2 linked regions of the Homo sapiens genome follow. The protein of the gene in region 2 interacts with the protein of the main gene of each other region in a biochemical or structural test. Each region holds a gene or a part of one and is shown on either strand. Other genes may lie near its edges.

The links. Proteins that work in one complex are often made in the same cells at the same time.
Region 1: the proteins of PTPRM (region 2) and BCCIP form a complex in vitro, tested with the Homo sapiens proteins (one study listed by BioGRID).

The regions. Positions count from the first base shown.
Region 1 is NC_000010.11:125,825,441-125,834,094, reverse strand, and holds part of BCCIP (BRCA2 and CDKN1A-interacting protein), read right to left. Parts: intron 7,505-8,654; coding exon 7,430-7,504; intron 6,538-7,429; coding exon 6,457-6,537; intron 3,534-6,456; coding exon 3,444-3,533; intron 2,676-3,443; coding exon 2,488-2,675; intron 324-2,487; coding exon 149-323; intron 1-148. UniProt on the Homo sapiens protein: During interphase, required for microtubule organizing and anchoring activities. During mitosis, required for the organization and stabilization of the spindle pole.
Region 2 is NC_000018.10:7,562,244-7,571,166, reverse strand, and holds the start of PTPRM (receptor-type tyrosine-protein phosphatase mu isoform 1 precursor), read right to left. Parts: upstream 3,852-8,923; 5' UTR 3,349-3,851; coding exon 3,276-3,348; intron 1-3,275. UniProt on the Homo sapiens protein: Receptor protein-tyrosine phosphatase that mediates homotypic cell-cell interactions and plays a role in adipogenic differentiation via modulation of p120 catenin/CTNND1 phosphorylation.

The DNA of each region.
Region 1 (8,654 bases), on a different chromosome or scaffold from region 2:
TTAGCTGCTAGGTCCTGTGGGGAAACAGAAAAACAGAGTAGCCACACTTGAAAGACTTGGACCTAAAGTGGGAGAACAATAAATCTTGATAAATCATTTTCAAGAAAATCCTTATTTACATCTAAACAAATAAGCAGGATAGTCTTACCTCATAGAAAAATTCTTCCTCTGCATTTGCAAACATTAACGCAGCTTTCTTTTTGTTGCTAGGTTTCTTTTTGGAATTGTTTTTTCCTGCTTCCACAAATGTCTTACTAATCAGAAGGTAAAAGTAGCACTTCCCACATGGCTTATTGGTTCTGTGTGCCCCCGCCAGTTCTTTCCTGCAAGGCACACACACAACATTTGTTTACCTGCTGGGTCAAGTGAAATCCATCAACAAACCAGAGCACAGAAAACCCGGTGAGGCATCTTCAGTGGGTTCTGCTGTGACGCAGGCATTCAATCTGAACACTTAGTCTACAGGAATGATTTTTATTTACATAATCAGTTGCATTTTAGATTATGTATTACTTTTTATAATACTATGATATATCTCTCAGATTATGCTGATTTGTGGATATATAGCAACTAACAGATCAGATGAGTCTCAAATTCACTCAATGTATCACTGCTCTGCCTGTGCATAAGTTAAAAATATATACGAATCTGAATTTTTGAATTTTTTAAAGCAATGAACATTTAACTGAAACACACAAAGGTATACAGCCACAACCAATGTCACTACAGCCTGTGACTACTACCACAGTCTCTAATTGCTAGAGTCTGGAACTAATTTCTGACATACTGCAGAAACTGCATAAACACACAACCTAAATTCTAGCAATGGAATCGCAACAAAGCCTTAATGTTTCTTCTTTCTGAAAATTAAACATAGCCTTGTGCATCTGGATGCCCTTGAACAAAAGAAGAAACTCAGAACAACCGTCCTCTTCAGCTTTCCTTTTTTTTTTTTTTCTTTTTTTCGTTTGGAGACAAAATCTCACTCTGTTGCCCAGGCTGTAGAGTACAATGGCACAATCTCGGCTCACTGCAACCTCTGCCTGCCAGGTTCACACGATTTTCGTGCCTAAGCCTCCTGAGTAGCTGGGATTACAGGTCTGCACCACCATACCCGGCTAATTTTTTGTGGGTGTATTTTTAGTAGAATTGGGGTTTCGCCATGTTGGCCAGGCTGGTCTCAAACTCCTAGCCTCAAGTGATCTGCCAGCTTCGGCCTCCCAAAGTGTTGGAATTACAAGTGTCAGCCACCACACCTGGCCTTTTCAAAAAAAAAAAAAGAAAAAAAAAAAGATAGGGTCTTGTAATTTTGCCCAGGCTGGCGTGCAGTGGCTATTCACAGGCACAATCATAGTATATTGCAGCCTGGAACTCCTGGCCTCAAGCATTCCCCCTGCCTCAGCCTCCTGAGTAGCTGCGACTACAGGCGTGCACCACTGCGCTTGGCTCACTTCAGCTTTAACAGGACTAGGAGAAAGCAAATCACCCTCCTATAAAACCAAATAAATGTGAGCTCCAGCTGATCAGAAAAAAAGAAAACCAAAAAAAAACAAAAACCACTTAAGGCACCAGAAGCACAATCTGAGCTACAGCTGAGAGAGCAGGGAGCAGGAGATAAGAAGCATCGAATCCCTAGGAAAAAACAGCAAACGTAAAGGTTTCCAGAGTAGAGTTGCATTCCTACAGCTATTTAAAGGAAAACCACAACGCAAGGGCTATGACCTCTGAGAAAGAATATTCTATAAAGAACCTGTCTAGGTCAAGTGCTGTGACTGACACCTGTAATCCCAACACTGGGAGGCCGAGGCAGGAAGATCACTTTAGCCTAGGAGTTCAAGACCAGCCTGGGCAATGTAGCAAGACCCTGTCTCTACCAAAAAAAAAAAAAAATTTAAATTAGATAGAAATAAATAAGAGAATCTGCCTATATTTTGTCCTCTGTTGCAAAGCACAGACAATACAATTCTTAGTACACTCAGTTTGCTAGATTTCACAGCTACATTTGAAATATTTTTGTAAACTTAAAACTTCTGGATTAAAAAATAGAATAACAAAAACCCTGAAAAGCTAGCCACAGTATCAGGACTATGGTTTCATTTGTTATGAAACATACCAATAGAATTTGGGAACTTTACCAGTTTTGTTATTGTTGTAATTGTTCATTATTTTATTCATGTTGCAGAAAGCTATCTGTGAAGGTGAAAAACTTCAATCAAATGGGGATGCAAAGTCTATATGAAATTATCTACTTATATATCACTTAAATCTTAAGTTAAAATTTCATGATTATTGTCACAAACTCTTCAAAAAGCCAGTTGTTAATAATGTATGTACTTCACAGGATGTTTCTTCCACTCCCCTCACACTAAACCCACTTAAACCAAGGACAGAACTCTTTCTATATCTACATATTCTACTTAAATGACATTTAGGAATCTATTTGAAAAAAAAATTACTGTTCAAAGATATTTTCCCAGAATCTCTTACTGAAGCTGCTGGTACATGGGCAGAGCGATCTGTGGAGGGACATTAATGAATCTTTCACTTAGGAGAAGGCCCACAGGCTTGGTGGTGTCATTTAAAAACTTGTCCAGCTGTTCAACCATGCTCTTTTCACAGTTCTTCTCACAGAAGCGTAGAACCAACTCTTGAATTTGTTCAACACACTGGGTACCCTAGAAAGCAAAGAGAAAGCTTGTTTCCTATTACAAGCCATCACATAGAGGACAAAACCTGAGAGTAAAAGCTATCACTTTTCATCTTACAGCTAAGGGCAGTTTCCTGCCATAGCCTTAACGTCTTGTATGTCTTCAGTGTTGACTGCTTAAGCATTTCTCAAAAGTAAATACACTGGTTATTTACCATCCCATGATGAGTGGTAAGAGAGTCATAATTAACATTCAGACACACTGGAATGGCAACTCTAGTCCATCTCATAAAGATAGATGGAAGTAACTGGACAGTTTATTTCAAAATTAAAGACTAAGTGTAGCCTGCATCTTATTCTGAGGTGGGTAAGCAGCTGGTTTACTTTTTATTACAACTCATCAGAGAATCAATAAAAAGAGATGAATCGAAACAAAATAAAATGTCAGTAAATGCCCTCAACATTGAGGCAGCAAAGCCTGAGAATATCCCCACTACACAAGTAGCAAAGATAACAGCTGCAGAGAGACAGCACAAACAGCTCCTGCATCAGTACCAACATCAGGACTGCAAAGCCAGATGATTCCCTAAACCACAGGGAGTAAACAACTTTAACTGGGTACAGACCCAACACCACCACCTTCATATTGAAAAAGGATTACAATAAGATTTCACAAGAGCACTTATCCCTATAGTTAATATCACTGTTTAACATAAAAGACATTTTCACCATGCATTAAATAAAAGTGGTTTTGGCCTAAGAAATAACCATTCAGATGCCATCCAGTGAAACCAACCTTTCTTTCAGTTAAATTTAAAAGGCTTATGAAACCAAAAACCTCATCTTCATCCATATCATCATTGCTGTCTTCTGAAACATCCGTTTGCTATTTTAAAAGAAAAAATATTTAAATGTTATATTTAGTATAATACCAAGAGTATAAAACCAAGTCTTGGGATGTAGGCCTCATTTATCTTTTCACTTTTCAAAAGCAAAACTTTGTTTTACCACCGCCATCTTAGAAAGCATTGTATTTTAAATACTGTCACAGTTTTACCACCATCATCTTGGAAAGCATTGTATCTTAAATACTGTGTGACCTTGTTCATTTCGCTTTACCTCGACTCTGTTCCTCTTTTCAGATTCTGAACAGATTGAAATTTCTTTGTACCAGATTAAGTCATTTTCTTTTATCAGATTCTCAATATAATACAAATCCAGAAGAGATAAACCTCATGAAATAAAGCATTTTCATTTGTTTTCTACACAATTAGGCTGGAGCCAAGCCTTGCTTCTCTGCTGGCCCACAGCATTGTTTCATCTAAAACTCATGAGTTTCCAGAACACTTGTCAGTCTTGACCATTAGTGAAGCTAGGCAATGCTTGAGGGCCACTTACACCTATCACATTAGCAAGAGAGAAGGGGAAAAAAGAGAACCCCCTGCCCTTTGTTCTATGATCCTAGGGACTGGCTCCACCGAACACTATGGGTAGTCCCTTTACTAAGAACAAGAAGTCTCTATCCTCAGGACACCTCAAGTGTCTCTGGAGAATCCCAAGAAGCCACAGTTACAACTGCAGAGCTATTGATGTGATTATCCATTTAAAGAGTGAATCCTGCCATTAGATAATAACCTCTTTCAAGGATAAAAATAACTGCTTCTCCTCCATATCCATTAGGTCTTCTAAGACACGAATCAGCTAGAGATCACATTTATTTGATGAAAGGGCAGGTGGTCTGCTTTTTCCCATTGCCCTAATAAAAGGAATGCCCCATAGGTTTAATTTCTCATTTTCTTTACATTGAGTGCCATAAAGTTACTAATATTGTCAGAAGCCTTGAAAAGTGTACACTGTATTTAGTAACAAGTATGTTGGTGACCCTATCACTCAGTGTCCGAATTTTAGTGGTGTAAAAGTCAGATAAGAGTGTCTGAAGAATGAATAGGAGGACAGGAAGTAGAAACCATGACTTAAGATTACTTTTCAAGAATTTTGGCTCTGAAGGTGATGTACTTAAGAGTGGAACATTAGACTGAATGGAGCTTTTGTTTGTTGTGTTTTTCACAACAGGCTAGGGAACAGGTGCTAGGAACAGGAAAAAGACATCAACAGTGACAGCTACACATATGTAGCACATGTCAGCTGCCAGACACTGTTTTAAGCAGTCAGCAATTCATTTTGTTTACCCATGCACTCTACAAGATCGGTGCTAGTACCATCCTCATTTTCAGAGACAGAAATGGAAACAGATTAAGGTACTGTGGCAGACTGTATCTTTCACAGATGGCCCCAATGGATCTCTCCTTGGACATGCTCTTCTGACAAAGTGACCTAGGTACTTTTCTCATGGAGTGGTGGGATCAATGTGCCCTCCCCCTAGATAGAAATTTCTATCTGTAAAGACTAAGCAAATGGTGGAAATGGCACTATATCACTTCTGCCTGCTTCTTTTGGGCAGCTTGCTCTTGGAAGCAAACCAATGTGTGACGAGGCCCACATGGAGAAGAACTAAGGCCCCTGGTCCAGAGTCCCAGCTAAGCTCCCGACAGACAGCTAGGGCTAACTTGCCAGTCATGTGAGTGAGCCATCTTGAAAGGGAATCCTCCAGCCCCTAGTCAAGCCACCCCAGCTAACATGATGGAGCAGGAGCACAGATGAGTTGTGCCCACTGAGCTCTGTCCAAACTGTAGATCCATTAGCCAAATAAATGACTACTGCTATTTTACGACACTAAGCTATGGGGTGGTTTGTTATACAAACAACAGATAACCCAAAGAACCACCAGATGATAAGCAGCAGACCCAGGGTCTAAACCAGTCCTTATTTTGTTGAGCTCTCTACAACATCTATCTGATAAAGATGACCATCCCCTCCTCCTTCAAATGTTATCTTTCTTGCTGTGTATGACATCACTGCACTATTGTTTCTTCTACTTCTCCTGTCATCCCTTTTAATCTCCTTTGCTGGCTCTGCCACTTATATTACTCATCGAAGTATTCTTGGTATTACTAAGGTGTCTGTCCCTTCCCTCCCTGCGCAATCTCAATCACTTCTACGACCTCAGTAACATTTACGACCAACTCCCAAGTCTCCAGGGCTCCACCTGCTACCCGGTATCTCACAGGTAACTCAAACTCAAAATGTACAAATCCAAATTCACATTCCCCCTCCTAATTTGACCTTCCTCCATGTTTGTTATCCTGTTTGCTCAAGCTAGAAACCTGGAAGTCATCCTTGACTCCTTTTCCTCTCACTTTCAGACCCAATCAGGGACTAAACCTCATCATATTTCATCTCCCAAATATTTTCTAAATGAGCCCACTTCTCTCCCTCTCCATTGCCCCCACCTGGACTACTGCATTTAATAAGCTTGGATTTCTGCAATGACTTCTGATCAGTCTCCATTCCTCCAGTAATACTGCTTCCAATTTGAGCTAAACAGAATAAAGAACTTTTTTTTTTTTTTTTTTTTTTTTTCAGATATAGGGTCTTGCTGTGTTGCCCGGCTAGAGTGCAGCGGCACAAAGCTCACCATGGCCTTCAACTTCTTGGCTCAAGAGATCCTCCTACCTCAGCCACCTGGGTAAAAAGACTACAGGCATGTGCTACTATGCCCGGCTAATTTTTTGTTATTTTTTGTAGAGACAGAGTATTGCTATATTGCCCAGGATGGTCTTGAACTCCTGGCCTCAAGCAATCCTCCCACCTTTGCTTCCCAAAGTGCTGGGATTACAAGCATGGTGAGGCCCAGCATGAACAGAATAAAGAACTCATTTAATCAGAATAAACACAATTATCCTACTTACCTTAATCACACTCCCAATATGGTTCTGTTGAATTAAGAGATCTGTTAGTTCTGCAGTGTTCACAGGAGCCTTTAGAAAAAGCTAAAAGGAGGAAAAAATTATTTTAAATTAAGATCAAAGCATGATTTCTAATAACTTCAAATCCTATATTCAAATACAAACAATGAAATTTCTGTGACTTAAGATGATGATCTAGAAAAGCAACCCCAAGAGGGAAAGAAAAGCCCAGGAGAGTCAAAGAAGCTAAAGATTAGGAAATTTCAGAAAAGAAGAAGTCAGTAGTAATATAGAAGTAATGGGGGAGGGGGAGAAAAAAGGGAGAAACGAGAGAGGATAAACTTAAGGCCAAAGAATTTGGTGAAAAAGACGGTAGAGCTATAAAGGCTAAAGAACCAAAGTCATATTATATGAGTAAAAGAATAAGGAGAAGCAGCAAGCATCAATTTTATAGCACCAAACAGCACAGTTATATGACTGTTACATAAGAATTGTGAATTAAAAAAAAAAACAAAATAACTCTAATTAGCAGATGAAAGGAAATAATTCTTCCTTCCAGGCAAGGTGGAGAGGATAGAAATGGAAATTCTAAAAAGATGAACTTGGGAGAGCCTGTATTGAATGACCTGAATTTTCTTTTTTTTTAGAGACAGAGGCTCACTCTGTTGCCCAGACTGGAGCTCAATGGCACATTCATAGCTGCAGCCTTGAGCTCTTAGACTCAAGTAATCCTCCAGCCTCAGCCTCCTGAGGAGTTAGGACTAACGGTGTGTGCTACCACAGTTGGCTAATTTTTAATTTTTTTGTAGAGACAGGTTCTCATTATGTTGCCCAGGCTGGTCTCAAACTCCTGGGCTCAAGCAATCCTCTCACCTCGGCCTTCCAAAATGCTGAGATTATAGGCATGAACCACTGCACCCGGCCCCTGATTTTTCTTAGAAGAGGAAATTTATGCATAATAAATAAAAGACAATACCTGCTGCAGTAATTTCTTAATTCCGTCATAATCATTATCTGATAGGGAATAAGCTTCAAATTCAATATTCACTTCCTGTAAATAACACACAAAATAGTTGTTACCAGAAAAACTACAAACATCTAGACTTTAAAACAGGCAAACATTGCCAAGATTGCCATCTGTGAAGAATACAAAGCACCTTCACACTATTTCTTCAGGTGACACAAAAGCCTGAGAAAACAAAACACTCAGAGTAACCTAGTTTAAATGTTGAGAAAGTCCAGTTCAAATAAACCAGACACGGCAGCCACAAAGGATAAATTATTTTCCTGATTACAAGGGTGGGCAAAAATCAAAATCACTTCAAAAGTCCCTGGAATTGCCTAGAGCTTGACTTAGCCCATGGATTTGAGGTTACACTACATTTGCTTAGCAAATATTTATTAAGTATCAATCCAGGTACCAAGCACTGTGCCAGGCACTCAAGATGAAAAGGTTAGTAAGGCAGACACAAATGATCCTGCTCTCGTGCAGCTTACGATTTAGGAAGGAATATAGGCATTAAGGAAATATTCATAGAAATAAATGTAAGTGCTATAAAACAAAGGTACACAATGTTGTAACAACTTAAAAAATAAGAAGTCAGTCAGGAAAGCCTTCCTTGAAGTGACATTTGAGCAAGAAACCGAGAAACAGCAAAGAGAGTTCCTGGTACAGGGAACAGCACAAACTAAGGCCCTAAGGCAGAAGGAAATACAATGAGTACAAGGGACTAGAAGAATGAATGTGTAGCTGGGCTCCCTGATCTCTATCTGCAAGACAACAGAATCTAGAAGATGGAACTAAAATGCCAAAAACAAAACCTAGTTGCTTTTAAACACTAACAAGATTAGTCCTTGAGGACCCTAAATCAGACCTTGATAAGTGACACAATGAACCTGGGGCTCTGATGAAATAATATATTTAAAGGCACTTCAGGTTTTAACGGTTTCAGAATTTAGGTCTTAGCTGAAGAACATCGCAGAGGAAATCAGACCTCCTTTTACCTTGCCACCCTGACTATGTATATATTTAAGTCTTCCTTAATTGTAAAATTGCAAGGCCCTGGAATTGCTTAGAGCAATTCCAGCTCCAATTTGAACTCTTTAAGTCCAGCTTTGCAGACTTCAAATGCTAACTTAGCCAGATTATGTGAGCAGCAAAACACAAGGGGTCGGGTGGGAGTGTTCCAAACAGGATCAAA
Region 2 (8,923 bases):
AGATTGAGACCATCCTGGCCAACATGGTGAAAACCCGTCTCTACTAAAAATACAAAAATTAGCTGGCGGTGGTGGTGGTGCACACCTGTAGTTCCAGCTACTCGGGAGGCTGAGGCAGGAGAATCGCTCGAACCCGGGAGGTGGAGGTTGCAGTGAGCCAAGATCGTGCCACTGTACTCCAGCCTGGCGACAGAGCAAGACTCTATCTCCAAAAAAAAAAAAAAACCCACAATTTTGTAATGAAATCCATCATTATAAGTAAGCAATGTCATCACAGGCCCAAATCCTAATACTTTTCCAGTAAGTTTAGCATTCTATTTCTGATGTCTGGTATCCAAATCACATGTAGTCCACCTCCAGAAATGGTTAATTAACAATCTTAACAATTCCAAACCCATTCCAAAAGAGGACAGGAGAGCACTGCAGAAAGCAAAGGGCAGAGTGCCTTGTGTAGATAATGTCTGAGTTATACAAAAACCCTTGACTGATTATATTTATAAACCCTCATGATTAGTCCATTGGCCTAAAGAGAACCCAGTGTGGAAAAGGCAAGCCAAGTCTAACTTTTAACAATCACTTCTCTCCCTCCATTTTATTATATATTGGTCCATTCACACACAATTTGAATATGTGCAAATGATCAAGATTCTCATTAGTGATTTATTCAACAAATAGTAATAATGCCTGTGACATCTAAGGATCTATGAGAAATGTTTTGTGAGAAAGTCAGAAGAAAACGAAAATTGGCTTTGCCCTCAGGGAGCTTACAATCTAGCTCTTCTGGCTCTAAAATTTATTCCCATGTCAAGTGAAAAGCAGCCAATTACTACAATTTCTGGAAGAAACATAAAAAAGAAATGTGTCAATGCCACTCCTAGCATTCAGAATTAACTTCCTCAACATACAAAAACAAAAAACAAAACCCTGATTCACACCTGTACTACCTAAACGCAATATGGAGAGAAAAATAAATAATGAAGTGAAACATATCTGATCCTTGCACATATGAAATTTGCCATCTTCACTTTTCACTTTTTTTTTGAGACGGATTCTCACTCTGTCACCCAGGCTGGGGTGCAGTGGTGCAATCATAGCTCACTGCAACCTCAAACTCCTGGGCTCAAGCTATCCTCCTGCCTCTGCCTCTAGAGCAGCTGGGACTACAGTCACACGCCACCACACCCAGCTAATCCAATTTTACATTTTTTAAAGTTCAACGTTTCTGAGGCATGGCTTGGATGCTGCCCTTTACCCACTAGCATGCCAGGATAACTCTGGCTTTCTAGATAGAAAAGAAAACACATTTCACTTAATGGTATGATTAACTCAAACAAATAGATATATTTCTTCCAAATGAAAAATCAGGCTAAATTTTAGTAGAAGTCTATTTTGGCTTGACTGATCATTTACATCAGCCTTAACAAGGACATGGGTCAGTACAACTGAGGCTGAAATCCTTTTTGGTGATGAGGAACCCATGGTTTAAATAAGCAATATAAATATTTGTTTCCACTCCCTTGCACACAATTTAAAAATCCATCCAAATGATATTTGACACAGCTTAACTTTAAACAAATCCCAAGAAGGGAGTCATGGATGTTAATAAAGAGAAAACCATCACTAGGGCTCTCATACTTGGCTTCTAATACTAATGAGTTACAAGGCTCTCAAATTCTACTCTATTATTCACTAATAAGAACACAGACCAAATTCTGCATCAGTTTTATAATCAGACGACAGTGCATCATTGTGTTAAATCCTCTGGAGCACGTGCAATTACCAGGCAGTTAGGGAAACACAAAACTTGGAGAAAGGATATTTCTGTATTGAAGTTGATGCTTTGGGTTTCAAAACCTACACGTTCCACTCCTTCTCTGAGGCCAACTGTGATCAAGGGTCCTGCAGATCAGCAACACACAAGACACAACTAATGTGCCTGTGAGTCCAGAGCTCCAGCAGCCAATGGTCCTGGACCCCAAGAAAATAAAAAGGTTTCCACGCACCGGAGGACCAAAGGTTTTTACTGCTTAAAATATGCTCTTTACTGTTTATGAAAGTCCTCTTCATTAAATTCTTAAAAAGCCCAACTTACTCATTCAACTCACTTGTTCCCAAACGCAGAGACCTATTTTGCAAAAACCAAGTTTAAGACCAAAGAGCAGGCTTTTTTATTAAAGAAAAAGAAAGCCCACCGCCCCCACTGCATGTGGACCTTAATGAAACTAATCTAATAAACACTAGAAAGAAGGTGTGCAAATGGGCCAGCATTTGCCGTCTATCCACCTGTGTCACCCAGGTAATAAAGGTCATCCTGGTTGTAAACCCCTGTGACAGCGTGCCGGGTTCGCCCCCACGCCGGACCCCCGACTCCGATCCACAGATCCTCTCCGTGAGGGGTTCCTCTGGGCTTAGAACGCCCCCGCGCGCGCGTGCAGGCACACACGCGCACACACTCACACGCTTGCTCGCACACCGCCAGTGCCTCTCCTTCCCACCTGGGACCCCCGGGCAGCCGGGCTGGATGAACAAGTTGCAGCTGGCCGCGGCGCTCCGCTAGGGGGACGAGGGTGGGGAGGGGGAGCCCAGCGGGGCGCAGGGCCGTGGCCAGGGCCTGGGGACCTGCCCGCTTCCCTCCGCGGCCGCCAAGCCCTACCGCTGGGACCGGCGAGGAACTCCCCCCAGCCTCTCCGCAGACGCTGCACGACCGCGGGGACCTCCCGGGGTCGCCAGCCGCGCCGGGCAGGGGGCGACAGGGAGGGCAGGGCACCGGGAGATCGCCGCCGCCGGAGCGGCCGCCAGTTCCCGGCGATCGCTGCGGGCGCAGCCGAACACCAGCGGCCTGGGCCCGGCCGCTGCTCGGGGTCGGCGGGGACCGCGCAGCGCCTACGCCAGGCGGCCCGGCGGCTGCAACTGGGAACTTCAAGCAAAGTTTTCTGCTGTTCCTTTTGCAGCCGGCCAGGGACTCAAGAGTGCAAGCCGCCCAACCTTGAGCACTAGCCCAGGCCGCGGAAGGACGGCGGCCGAGCTGGCAGTCCCGGCTGGGGAGCTCGCCCTCGGGGTCCGTCCGCTCCGCCCGCCCGAGGACTGGGTGCCTGCCAGCCCCACGGCCCCTCGCCCAGCGCCCGGCTCACAGGCAGAAGCGGTGTCCGGCCCGCCGCGCCCCCCGCCCGGCCCCGACGCCAGCCTTAGGGCTCTACCACCAGGGAGCTGTCGGCGTCCCGGGCGTCCCGCGCCGGCCCGCGCGCCTCGGGGGCGGCAGAGGCGGTCCCGCTTACCTGAGAACGTCTCGCCCGCCGCAGTTAGCAAAAGTCCGGCCAAAGTCGCCAGGCAAGTCCCAAGTCCCCTCATGGTGCTGAGTGCGGGCCGGGCCGCTCCCCGGCGGCGGTGGGTGGGCGCGCGAGGGCGGAGGGGGCCGGGAGCTTTGGTTCCGAGGCAGCGAGGAGAGACGGGTAAACAGCAGAGCGCTAAGCCAAGCCCCCAAAGTGCCAACAGTTGCAGAAGTCCGAACTCCAGCGGCTCCAGGGGCGCGGGCACAGGGTCCTGGGTCCTCCTCCCCTGTCCCTGGCCCCACTCGGCGTCTGGCGCCGCTGGCAGAGGGAGCGGAGGGCGAGCCCGCGGAGCCAAAATCTTCCCTCGGTTCCGGTTGCTGAGCTCGCCGCCTCTCCCCTTCCCCTGCCCGGGACCCGGGACCCGAGCTGCCGGCCGTGGCCGTGGCGGTGGCCGTGGCCGTGGCCGCGCGCGTTCCGCCCGCCGCCTCTCCACAGGCAGCCCCAAGCCCAGCCCCGGGCGGCGGCGCGCCGATGACCGAGCCCGCGCCGGCTGCGCGCGGGGCTCTTGCTCCCCGACTGACTGGCGGTGCCCCGCAGGCCGGCTGAAGGGAGCGCTCACGTCACGGCCGCCCGGCGCCGCCGCGGCCCGCTAGAGGGCGTGAGCGCCCGTGCCCCGCCGGCCCGCGCCCGAGCGCCTCCGGGAGCTCGGCTGGGGGCGGCCCCGCGGCCACAGCCACTACCGCCGCCGAAGCGGGCGTCAGCCGCGCGGGGAGGAGCGGCCACCGGGCTCCCCCCGCCCACCTCCTCGCCCCGGCCGCGTCTTCTATTTTGGTAGCTGGCTCTGGGGAGGGTGACTGTGGAAGAGGCTGCGCCGCCGCCAGAAGTTTGTCCCGGGTCACGAGCCGCGAGTAGTTTGTGAGCGCGGCCGGGCGGGACCAGCGGCCTGCGACCCCGCGGGCGCGGCCAGGCGGCTTCGAGCCTGGCGCCGGACGGCGATGTCACCGCACAGGGCCAGCTGCACCCGGAGTCGCCGGGCCTGCGCTGCTCGGCGGCTGCGGGAAAAGCGAGCCAGGAGATCGCTGAGGCTCCGGAGGGCTGCGAGCTTCTCTACGCCGCGGGCGGAGCGAAGTTGGCGGGCGCCGGGAGATGGCGCGGGAGCCGGGAGCGCCGAGCCCCGCGATCGCCAGCCCGCTCCCGGCCGGGCCCGCCGGGTACACGCCGCTGGCCCCGAGCACTGGCGCCCGGGAAGCAGGGCGCGCTTCTGCTGTTCTGCGTCCTCATCATGCCTCGGTGTCCCGTGTGGGCCCGAAGCGAGCCGCAGGCAGTACACGGAAGGCGGTGGTCACACCAAAACCAGGGTTTGGACATAACCCGTGGTTTCTGTATCTGGTGCAAAGTGCTGAGAAACAGGGGAGAAAGAGAAGTGGGGGGTGAATCAAGTAATGTCTTGAAATATTTTAGTTTTACGATTTTGGGTCTGAGTGAATTAAAAAAACCTTACAATGCTTCAGCAAAAAATAATTTTTTTATTTTAATTGTAAATTTTTTTGTAAGTGATCCTTCTATCTTCCAGGGAATAAGCACATTGAGCCAGCACCAACCAGACAGCTGTAAGCTCCTGGCCTAGCTAACTGAACGCAATAGAAGGCTTGGGAAGAGGTTAAATTAGGAACCAAAGTAACTGAGTGACAGGGTTCTAGCAATGATTCTGGCTAGAAGGCAAACCGGTGATACAGAGGCACCCAGGAGCTCTCCTGCACTTTTTCCGCAAGAGGGGTCCTCTGCTTAGTGCTCACTGCTTTCTAGTGCTTATAAACACGTAAAAAAATAAATGGATTCCACACTCATCTTGACCCTGTTCTCCACTGTACACCAGAACCAAGAAAGATACAGCTGTCATCCTCCCAAGGCAAATTTGGGGACTAGAAGACTTGCCTTTAGTGTGGCAACCAACACTCCTCTTACTTCAGGAAGTCCACTTACTAGATACTTACCAGACCTGCTCTTTAGAAGTCTCTATATTAATCATTTGCTTGTTAATATGAGCTTACATTGTCCTGCCACTTCTCCCAACTATGTGCTTATGGAACCTTATCTTTAATTGTGAAATGAACATTGAAATCTCAGAAAGGAAGCAATGTCTTCAAGATCAGCAAGTGAGGATGGTCAAATCTGCAACCTGGGCTTTCCATTTTGATGTACTTGTGTTCTATACTGCAGTTCAAATTTGCTTTAAAAAAAATTAGTAATAGGCTTTCCAATGGAGTTTTTCTGCTAGTGGGAGGACAGAGGTGGAAGCTAGGGAGACAAAAGTTGATCTAATCACTTTGCTTCAGAGTAACTTCTTTAAATTAGGTGAAGTTAATATTAGGGTAGGATTTCATTTGCAAAGTATTTTATTCTTTCAGCAAATATCTACTGAGTCAATACCATATGTCAGGCACTGTGCTAAGTACTGGAGGTTGTCTTAGGCTGGGCTCCCTCAGAAACAGACCTGGAGGTTAGGATTTAACTATAAGTGGTTTTGAATTGGGGAAGTGATCCCAGAAAGCACTATAAGGAAGGTGAGACAGCAAGACAGAGAAGAAAAAAAAAAGCAGACATCGATATGAGATGTGTCAATAAGCAGGTTACCACTATGGGCAAGGGAAACTCAATCCCCCTGCGGGGGGACGATGAGGAGCTGGATGGAAGAGGAAAGGGCCACTCTACGGACCTGCCACTGAGGCATTAGACAGAAATCCCTGCCAGTACTCCAACTGCTGCTGCCACAGGACTCCTCTTGGTAACCTCTACAAACCCTGTCCCTTCTGCCTGTTACTTAAAGCTTAGTGGGAGGGTCTGTAAATTTCTATTACCCCTGTTCTCTATCTTTACACTGTTAAGTTGACTCTACCCTTTGCAGCCTTCCATCCACATTTCAAAGGGTGGTGGGATTTTTGCCAGCAGCTTCTGCCCTCTCAATTCATGACAACTACTGTTAGTTTACTCCCTCTTACAGGTAACTGGTCAGAGCAGCCTTTGAGCCTAAATGGAAGTCCTCTGCTGAAATGAATGGATTGGACTTCCTCTAAGGAAGGGATGCTGTAGGAATCCTCCCAGTGGGACATTTGCTTTGACTTGTTTTTTCAGCAGTAGAGATTTAGTTTTAACCACATTTCACTCCTGACTCACTGAGGACAATAGTGACATTTGCAGAATGGCTGCTCAGAGTTAGGGGTGCTGTCAGGCCAGCCCCTGACATTGGTAGGCTTGGGCAAGAGTACAAATGCATAGCCACTTACCATATGCCTAATATTTCAAAGTTATTAATTAAGCTAGCAAACTACTATGTATATTCCTACCTTGACACATATAACAATAAAATTGAAATATAAAACCTACAGATTTTATATGACAAAAAGCAAAATATCAGCAACTGAATTATGCATATCTGCTAGACATTATACATATCTAGATTTTCTTTGATAGGCTATATGGATAAGTAATATACATGATTCATATATATTTATTCTATAAAATTGATATTTCTCTTTAGTAAAATCACTGTGTTGTTATAATTGAGATTTTCACTTAATTTGTGTTCCATTGACAGCGGTGATTGAAAGCTTTGCTGTTCTGTATGGTAGCACCTAACAGCATTTCAGGTGTTCTGTTCCTCAGTGACACTAGCTACATTTCAAATGCTCAGTAGCTTCATGTGGCTAGAGCTAATGTATTGTACAACATGGAGAGAAAACAAGTCCATCATCATAGAAAGCACTATTGAACAACATTGATCTAAAAGATTCATCTATTCAGGCCCCATGTGGTGGCTCACACCTGTAATCCCAGCGACTCAAGAGGCAGAGGCCAGAGGATCACTTGAGGCCAGGATTTCTAGACCAGCTTGGACAACATGGCAAGATCCTGTCACTACAAAACAGTTTTTTAAATAGTCAAACATGGTGGTTTATCCCTGTAGTCCCACCTACTCAGGAGGCTGAGGCTGGAGGATCATTTGAGCCTAGGAGTTTGAGGTTGCAATGAGCTGTGCACTCTACACTCCGTCTGGGTAAAGAATGAAATCCCAATTCTAAAAAATAAATAAATAAAGGATTAATGTAGTCAAATCATACAAAATGTTTGTACTTACACCACAAATGTAAATTCCTTTTTTTATTTCAGAAAATTAGAATTATTTTTCTATAGTTGTTAAAAGTTTTCTTTCAAATGATTTAAAGTTATCTATTAGAATTAAAATGCAAAATACAAATTATGACAATGAATATAAACACTGAAAAGTTATTTTTTTAAAGCATAAACATTTTATTTAATATTTGGAAATTTAATTACACCTTATTAATGTGTAAATAAAACATAAACTTAGCAATTCTAGCATTCATTGTCCACCTGGTTGCTAACATAAATAATCAGTATTATGTTTCATGTGTTATAACTTCATATCTACCATTTTAACAGTAACATTAATTAGTTAATTTTTCAAAATATTGGCCAATCACCACGTTCAACCGCATGCAAATGCTATACTGCTGTATGACTTCTGCCAGAACCATGAATTGTAACAAAAAGAGAAGCAAGAAAATGAATGTTTGGCATTGCTAGGAAACCCTCATTATTTAAGACTGTATGATATGCTTGCTATCTAAAAGGAAGGTTTTGACAGTTTAATTCATTTGACTTTTCTTTGAATCAAGCGCCTCCACTATACATCATCCACACGTTTAGGAGTGTCCATCTTCCATGTCAGCAGCAGCACACCCTGCAAATCTTCAGGTTGTGGGATGCACTCACCTTTGTTTCAAGGACAAGGGACTATAGGGGAGAAGTGTTTCTCTGGGGCCCGAACGGTGTTGGTTTTGAAAGCAAAAGTTTAGGGTAAAGTTTTATGCAGTCTTTAACACTGAGCACCAGACCTCTACTGACAGAAGTGGCTGTATGTTCCTTAACAAATTTATTTTTATAGGTGTGTGATGCCCAGGGCAGGAGCCCATCCTGCCAGTCGGTGGGCCGAATTGCTGGCTGTACTTGTGCAGTGCTGGGGCCTGGCAATAGCAACTCTGCTCTTGAGATTTGTCCAAACCCCATTAAAGTCAAAATGTAAATATAACAATGAAAACTGATCTGACCATAACCCATCCCTACCTATCCAAAACGTTATGTCGAATTAGGAGGTTAACCCCGTGCGGCAAGTTCCTAAGCTAGCTGAAGTATTTGCCAAGAAGCATGGACAAAATGATCATTTGGATACCTCCCAAGGTCACTCAATTGTAACCGATGGAAAAGGAAAAGAAAAGATTGTCATTGTTTCCATTGCTCATGTTTTCTTATCTAGGCCTTGCTGAAATGATTACTTCCCACTTTTAGATGCATGTTGGGATTATGAAAGTGTGGTTTGAGAGAAATGGGAAATGTAAATAAGCATTCTTGTATAGATTTCCAAAATGACATATTCAAGGATGGCAAGTTGTAGGAAGAGAAGGTAGGAGGATGAAAGGAAGGGAAGAAGGAAGGAAGGGATAAAGGAGAGAGCTAGCACTATCTAGAGTCCAACTTCATTTGAATTCCAACTGTGTGAGTTAAATGAGTTCATTTCCACTTCCTGACTTGTAGAAATGGAATTACATGTGAAAGCTCTGTGTAAACTCTGAGGC